2 separate regions of the Homo sapiens genome follow, and region 2 is linked to region 1. The links come from fine-mapping of genetic effects on gene expression. A gene starts in region 1. The other region holds a variant in brackets. All regions are shown on one strand. Distances are from middle to middle.

Region 1 (4,405 bases):
GAAGAAAAAACTAGGATCGTGTAATATTAAAAAATAAATCGAGAGGCTTTTTTTTTTTGCTCTCCATATTATTAAGCTGCATGGACTGAGGTACTGACTCAATAACAATGGTTTATTGCTTTAAGATATTTTTATTTAGATGACCCTGTAAAAAGGATGGAAAATAAATAGAAATATTGAAGAAATAGGGGAAACAACCAATGTTGGGTCTAAAGAATACTAGCAGAGAAGAATTTAAAATTAAGAAGAAATGTAAGTACAGGTAGATCAAACAGCAGCGTTTGAGTCATTCTCTTATGCTTATGATTAAGAACGAACTGATCGTTCCCTAATCTTAGGACTATCCTCAATACTTCAGGCTAAGACACTGTTTCTATTATACCATCACGAATCTGTCTTAGGAACAAAATTATGATTCTAATGAATACATAATTTAGTCTTCCCTTAAAATTCTATCCTTTGATAGTGATTTATTTTAAACCTCTAACATCTCAATAATATATTAACCAAAGTTGCCTGGAAGGGCTTGGCCAGGGAGCAAGAGAATATCAGAGAGATAATAAAGATATAAAAAAGGAATTCCAATTTCCCAGATATGAAAAGAAATTTTGCTTGAAAAAGTTGACGACCTTTTCCTGTTTCTATAGTAAAATGGAATACATTGAACAACTACAAGATGAAGATATAAATTAAAACATAAGGCTGACCTGTGTCATTCAAACTCCGCTTCCCACAGTTCACCATATATGCATTTTAAGCTGCAGATCAGCTGAGAGAGAGGAGTTGATTCCATATTACTCTTTCACGAAAGGCTTGACACTATACCTGACATAGACATGGTTCTCAATATATGCCAGTTCATCATCTCTTTTTCCCTGGCATTTCAGGACCAATATTGATTGAATGATTCATTCATTCACAAATATTTATTGAATACCTATTAAATGCTGGACATTATACTAGGTTATAAGAAAAGAGCCTAACTTAAGGTGAAGAAAAGAGGAAAGACAGAAAAATATGCATACCTTTATTGTCCCTTCACTGTTCTTTTTCCTTTATCCCCATCCTTTATTTCCTCCTGTATCTCCTAAATTTTACATCATCATATTATATTATCAGCACTCAAAGTGTTAATTTTTAAGACTAAATCTGCACAACACCTATAGCTTCCAAGTGGGGATTCTCTATCTACAGAGGTTTTGAGGTGCAAGGTTTGTCTTAGGATGTCTTCTTTTTTTCACCAACAGAAAGCATTGTTTCTCCTAAGGTCATGCAGCAGCTGTAAACCATAACCACCCTCTCTGAATAACCACTGTTTTCTTACTAATGATGCCCTCAGACCAGCTTTGCTATTCCTATTACTGGAAATACTCAATTGCTAAACCACCCTCACTCATAACAGCACTTAGTCCCTAATCAGTTTCTCCCAATCCTTCTTTACAAACAGCAACCCATCCAGAACCAATCCCGGCTTTCCTAGACCTTCCTCAGAACCCTCCAGAGGGACCTCAAGTCTTAGAAAAGATTCAACTGTCTTGTCCTGCGCTTTCTGATTCCTCTTCGAGATGCGCTCTCCTGGTGGTTTTGGCTAATTAGGCCTTAACACTCCTAAGCAAATTTCAGGAATATTTTTAAGTGGAAAAAAACAAAGCCTGAGTGATTCATAGACTCTATTCACTTTCACGCTAGTCTCTGACACTGTTTCTTCATCTACTGCCCTGTAAAAGCAAAATTAATATTTATGTTCCTAAACTCCAGGTATTGCAAATTCTTAATACGAAAAAAATAGATTCTATTATGTTGGGCTATTTTATTGAGGCAGGAATGGTAGCTACTTTTACTTTTACATTCAAAAAGGATACACGTTATGGGGGGGAGGGGGAGAACAACCAGAATAGAAAGCACAAAGAAAAAAAAAAATCACAAGAAATTCTACCACGAAAATTAGTTTATTTTCCAGTGTTTTATTTCACATGTATACTTTTAAAGAAGGGATGGGATAGCATAGATACTGTTTCTCCAAAATGGAAATTGTCGTATTTTTTTCTAATGATAACATGCCTTATGTTCTCACAGCACCTGGTATTCTTTTCATAGCAACTTTTCACAGCTGCTAAATCTGAATAGTTGTTTCGGTGTCTTTCGCACTCTGATGTAAATCTGAGGGAAGACACTGTTCACCAAATCCCCAGCATGTTACACAGCCTGGCTACTAATTAGTGCCAAGTTTAACTGCTTTTTTTTTTTTTTTAAGCTGATACGTCACCAACTTCCCCATTCATTTCATAGTCCCCTGGTGAGGCTTAAGCTCTTGTCTGTTCTGGTCTTTTTTTTTTTTTTTTAACTTCCTAAAATTCTCCGATTCTAAAAGAAAGCTCCTAAATAGAAGCCAAAAAGTAGCCGCCCAACTTGAAACTCCCCACAAGCCGGGTAAATAGCGCGATACGCAGCAGCTAGAGTTCTCGCGTTTCCCACGGCGCAGGAGCACTGGAGGGCCCCCCTCCGCCCCCGGCCCCGCCAGGAAATTAGTGCGCATGTGCCGGTCATCCGGAAGTTACCGCAGTGGCCGCCGGAATTAGGCGAAAAGCCGGAAGTAAACATTACGAGATTGGCTTGGATTCTGTCGGATGGACTTGGGGCTAGCTGCGGCGGGGCTGGGTAAGAAAATATTGTTAGAACTTGCGGGCGACGGGGAGTTGGGGAACCTGAGAAAATGAGTCGAAGGCTCCTAATTATTGGATATATCTTCACGGGGGTGATGAGCCCTCAGGTGTTGAGGGAGCGAGGACGGGGGACCGAAAAGCCACTGTCCTGAGACCCATTCATGGCACTCGTGCCCTGCCAGGCCAGGCCTGCGTCTTCAGGGAAACAGTCGGGATAACTATGAGAGTGTCGCCTTTGTGGCGGTGCCTCGAAGACCTTGAGCAATCCCCGGACTGCGAGCAGGGAAAGCTGCTTCCAGTACCCAAATTGACAGACTGTATTTCCTCGCCAGAAAAATTTACTTGAGCTTCAGTTTTTCCTGTTAAGTCGAGATGATCCGACTTCAGTGGGGTATCATGCGGGTATAAATGAAAACATCTATGTAAGTAAAGCGCTAAACAGTGTCTTACGTAAGCCCTCAGTAAGTGGGAGCTATTACTGTTTTTAGTTGGAGAAAATAGGTCCCTCCACAGCGACGGAAACTAGTGCGTACAACTTGGTGACTATAATACTTTATTCAGTTTTAGTTTTTAATATTTTAGGCCCAGAAGCCAATGTTCTGTGGACAAGTATAACATACTGGTTTAGAGAACTGACTTTGGAGTCAGAGTTGTGTTTGAAGTCCTTATTTCTTACTACAATGTGTTCTTGGCTGAGGATCTTACCTCTCAGAACCTGTTTCTTCACTGTAAAATGGTGTTCATCAGACCTATCTACTGGGCTTATTGTGAAGATTAGATGAGGTGATACACGGTAGGCTCGAGAAATGGTAGCTGTTTTAATAAAGATTAAATTTACCGTTGTTGTGCTTCTCTTCGCAGTATATTTAGGCCATCAGTTTATATGTTACACAAATATATGTGGAGGTTTTCTATAGGTCAGACATAGAAGAGAACACCTTTGAGAAGCATCGTAGACCCCCAGGCATTGAGCACTTTCCACTGGGAAAGAGCTTGTGTAAAGGCCCAGTGTCTACAGGGAGCACGGTTTGTTAGAGGAACTAGAGGAACTACAAGAAGGTCTATGTAGTTAGTAGAGAAGGAAGCGGGGATAGTTGTAATGGTGAGGCTGGAAGGTAGGCAGGTGCCAGACCATGGTGGACCGTGTAGGTGTGTTAAAAAGATGTCAGTTTTTAGAGTACGAATGATAAAATCCTTTGGAGCGTCATTTTTTTTTTTTTTTTTTTGAGACGTAGTCTAGCTCTGTCGCCCAGGCTGGAGTGCAGTGACGCAATATCAGCTCACTGCAATATCGGCCTCCTGGGTTCAGGTGATTCTCCTGTCTCAGCCTCCCGAGTAGCTAGGATTACAGGTGCACGCCACCACGCCTGGCTGATTTTTTTGTATATGCTTAGTAGCGACGGGGTTTCGCCAGGTTGGCCAGGCTGGTCTCAAACTCCTTACCTCAGGTGATCCGCCCGCCTCGGCCTCCCAAAGTGCTGGGATTACAGGTGTGAACCATCGCACCCAGGTGTCACTATTCGTTATGATAGTTATTAGCCACTTGTGGTTATTGAGACTGGAAATGTGATTAGTTTAAATAAGTGTAAAACCCATATCAACTTTTAAAGACAGAGTTGTTTTTTTTCTAATTCAAATTTGCAATTATAATATGTTGGATATATTACATTAAATAAAATCTTGTAAAAGTAATTTTACCTGTTTATTTTTACTTTTTTAATGTGACTACTGGAAAACATAAA
Region 2 (4,405 bases), 36 kb after region 1:
GAGCATGGAACACCTCAGAACCAGAGGGCTCAAAATGGAGCCTCAGCTGGGGTTTCTTACACCCTGCTGTTCACACAGGCGTATTTTTGGCACATAACCAGCCCCAGCAACCAAGTTTTTGTGTCCCTGGAGGAAGGAGAACAGCGGGAGGGACAGAGGTCTCCAGGTATAAATCATTCATCTGACTATTACAATAAACAGTGTTGACAAACTGGTACAAACTACCCTGAAACTCCTCATACATAAGGTTACAAAACAATATTATTAATCAGGATATATTATGCCTTGACCAGGATTTGGTGTTATGCAAACAGCTGAGGCCAATTTCAGGCCCACTGGAATTCATCCTCATAGCACAACCCCAAAATGATCAGTGACAGTCTCAACTTACAATTCACTAGAACCACTGTTATATCCCCTGGTGGAAGCATTCCTCTCTTGGGAAACAAGACTGCCAAAATAACAGTTCACAGATGCAGCAAAGGGAAGCACAAATTCTGTGAGTGGATTATTAGGTGCAATAGTAAAATGAGCCACTCCCACTTTCACTCCTTGATTTCTGGGCTCATATTTTGACCTTGGAAGTTAGGGTTACATATCTTTGGTTATCAATTCAAAGCACATACTGCATCCTGTGAAATAGAACCTAATCCTCTTAGGTTATTTTCTCTCAGTTGCAAGTAACTGAGTCTTAAGTAAATCATTCTATCATTCTAACAAAGCAGATGCTTCTGGGTGATGAAGTACATGACAAAACCAATAAATTCCATGGGCATCAGTCTATTGCCACACTCTGTTATGGACTGAATGTTTCCCCCCCAAATTCATATGTTGAAGGCCTAACCCCCCATCAATATGACAGTACTTGGAGATGGGACCTTTGGGAGGGTGTTAGGGTTAGGTGAGGTCATGAGGGCAGGACCCTGGTCCCGTGAGATTAGTGCCCTTATAAGAAGAAGAGATACCAAGAGATTTGTGCAAGATGGCAGCTGCCTACAAGGCCAAGAGAAGAGGCCTTAGAATGAAACCTACCTTGCCAGTACCTTGATCTTGGACTTCACACCCTCCACTGTAAGGAATAAATTTCTGTTGTTTAATTCACCTAGTCTGTGGCATTTTATTGTGGCAGCCCAAGCAGACTAATACATACCCCTTTGCTAATCTTTGATAAGAAGTAATGTGATGCATGATACCATGACAGTTAATAAGGCTGGCAGAGATAATAAAGGCAAAGTCATATCCAGAATATGTATCTTTTCTAGTGACAGTAAATAGAAAGTGCCCACTGTAATCAACCTGCCACCAAGTACCTATGTTAGGCGCTCAGTGTTGGTCCCTGCTGTTGGCAGGTCAGGCACTCAGCATATCAAACTTGGTGAGAGGAAGTCCATGTTGTTGAGCCTAAATGTAAGTCTCCATCCTTGCCAGCATGGCCTCTCTTGTACATGGACCTATTGGGCAGTCATTGGGAATTTTGGGGAAAGAGGCCATCTGATATCCGCAGAGTATGTCATCTTTTTTTCTTTTTTTAAACTGATATTTGAGAGTTATACATATTTGGGGTGTACATGTGACAGTTTTACACATGTGTACAATATGTCGTGATCAAATCGGGGTATTGTAATATCTGTCACCTCAAACATTTTTCTTTGTGTTGGGAGCATTACAATTTTTCTAGCTATTTTGAAGTATACAATAAATTACTGTTAACTATAGGTTCCCTACTGTATTATTGAATGCTATAACATATTCCTTTTTTTTTTTTTTTTTGAGACATAGTTTTGCTCTTGTTGTCTAGGCTAGGGTGCAATGGTGAGATCTCAGCTCACTGCAACCTCCACCTCCCGGGTCCAAGCAATTCTCCTGCCTCAGCCTCCCGAGTAGCTGGGATTACAGGTACCTGCCACCACGCCTGGGTAATTTTTGTATTTTTAGTAGAGATGGGGTTTCACCATGTTGGCCAGGCTGGTCTCGAACTCCTGACCTCAAGTGATCCATCTACCTCGGCCTCCCAAAGTGCTGGGATTACAGGTGTGAGCCACCATGCCCAGCCCCATATTCCTTCTTTATAACTGTAATTTTTTTTACTTAATTACCAACTTCTCTGCATTCTCCCCTGCCCACCACCACCACCACCACCCTACTCTTTGCAGCCTCTGCTAACTACCATTTTACTCTCTATCTCCATGAGATCCATGTTTTTAGCTCCCACATATGACTGAGAACATGTGATATTTGTCTTTCTAGGCCTGACTTATTTCACTGAACATAATGACCTCCAGTCTCATTCATGTTGCTGCAAATGACAGGATTTCATTCTTTTTTAAAGGCCAAATAATATTCCATTGTGTATATATACCACGTCTTTATCCATTCATCCATTGAAGGAGACTTAGGTTGGTTCCATATGTTTACTGTTGTGAATAGTGCTGCAGTAAACACAG[A/G]AGTGCAGATACACTGATTTCCTTTCTTGTGGATACATACTTAGCAGTGGGATTACTGGATCATATAGTGGTTCTATTTTTAGTTTTTTTGAGGAACCTCCACATTGTTCTCCATATTCACTGTACCACTTTACATCCCTACCAACAACATATGAGCATTCTCCTTCTCTGCATCCTCACTAGCATTTATTATTTTTTGTCTTTTTGGCAATAGACATTTTAACTGGGGTAGATGATATCTCATTGTGGTTTTGATTTGCATCTCCCTGATGATTAGTGATGTTGAACATTTTGTCATACACCTGTTGGCTATTTTTATGTCTTCTTTTGAGAATTATCTATTCAGGACTTTTGCCCATTTTTAATTTGGATTATTTAGTTTTTGCTATTGAGTTGCTTGAGTTCTTTATATATTGTTCTTTTATTATTATATTAATCTCTTGTCAAATGGATAGTTTGCAAGTATTTTCTCCCATTCTGTAGGTTGTCTTTTCATTCTGTTGATTGTTTCCTTTACTGTGCAGATGCTTATTCATTTAAGGTAATCCCTTTGTCTATTTTTCTTTTGTTGCCTGTGCTTTTGAGGTCTTATTCAAAAATTTTTTCCCAGACCAGTATCCTGTAGGGTTTTCTCTATGTTTTTGTCTAGTAATTTAATAGTTCTTGGACTTAGGTTTAAGTCTTTAATCCATTTTTAGTTGATTTTTGTATGTTGTAAAAGAGATCTCGTTTCATTCTTCTGTATGTGGATATCCAGTTTTCCCAGCACCACTAATTAAAGAGACCACCCTTTCCTAAGTTTATTTTCTTGGTGCCTTTGTCAAAAATGAGTTGGCTATAAATGTGTAGATTTATTTCTGGGTTCTTTTATCTTTTCCATTGGTCTATGTGAAAGAGTGTCATCTTGTCTTACTGTTTATTGAGAGCCTCCTCTGCAGTGGATGGATGTCTGTGTTAGTTTAGGTTCAGCAAGGCAGTCCAGAAGACCTCAAGCCAAAGTCAGCTGTCACAAGAGACCCATATATTCCAGCAATAGGCGTGGCTAAGTATTCCTGCCACGCTCAGACATTTGCTGGGGAGAGCTCCCAGGAAGTGTGAACTGGCACAAGTACAGTGATGAAATTCAGAGTGCATTAATTTCAGCCTCTGGGGACCCTGGTTAATTATGTTGCCTGTAGTTGACAGCTGCAAAGTGCATTCTCATGGGCACACAACATCGTTTGGTAAGTATCCATCTGGAGCACAATTATCTTTAATTCTCTGCCTATTCTAAGAGGTCCATTCATATACCTGTCCCCCACACCTTTTTGTCACTTATCTTCTCAATCTGTTTTTTCCAAGTCCCTGATCGTCCATCAAACCATTAGTAACTTCCCTTGACTACTGCAGTTTAGATCCATACTTTTGGATATTGTTCAATTCAGACATAGTAGAGAACCAAATGTACTGCTCAAAATTTTCTCTAGGAAATTTTCCCTTCATTAGGATCTTTCCAAGACATACCTGATCCGGGTTGTAATGCTGCAATAGATTTTGCAGCAACCAGCTTGTACCAGCATATTGGTCAGAATAAATTATAAACCAGTTCTAAATTTCTTCCTGCTAGTCAGCTGGTCATAAAGAACTCCCCATGTAGCCTAAATTATGGATTGAGAAAAAAGAAGGCTTGCAACACAAGTAGGTGTCAATGGTGTTAAGCCACTTACTCAGGCAACTTGCTTGTGCCTTCCAAATCTGCTTAATCTTTGTTTCTTCTGTACTTCTTTCCACTTGAGGATAGATTGCTGCTATGCTCACTCCAATTTATGGCTTGCTGGATCAAATAGCACCCTATCCCATGGTTAGATGCCTAGTATCAAATCAGTGACTATTTCTCAGGAGAAAAATAGTTATCTACAGAAGAGGGTGTGGATTTTCTCTACCACCCCAGAGGTCAATGCTTCAGTTCTCCTATTGGCATT

The links. PIP is the estimated chance that this variant, and not a neighbour inherited with it, causes the effect.
Region 2: its variant is the best candidate, but not a certain one, in a credible set for the expression of SLU7 in testis (GTEx, PIP 0.56).

Annotation. Positions count from the first base shown.
Region 1 is chr5:160,417,276-160,421,680 of GRCh38, reverse strand. It overlaps SLU7 (spliceosome associated SLU7), which reads left to right and starts at 2,600. Exons shown (of 16, transcript NM_006425.5): 1 at 2,600-2,658. RefSeq lists enhancers at 2,189-2,258, 2,269-2,388, 2,839-2,888.
Region 2 is chr5:160,381,677-160,386,081 of GRCh38, reverse strand. No RefSeq gene overlaps it. Among named protein-coding and RNA genes, the nearest start is that of C1QTNF2, 13 kb to the right of the region's middle. The variant A/G (reference allele first, on the strand shown) is at 2,445.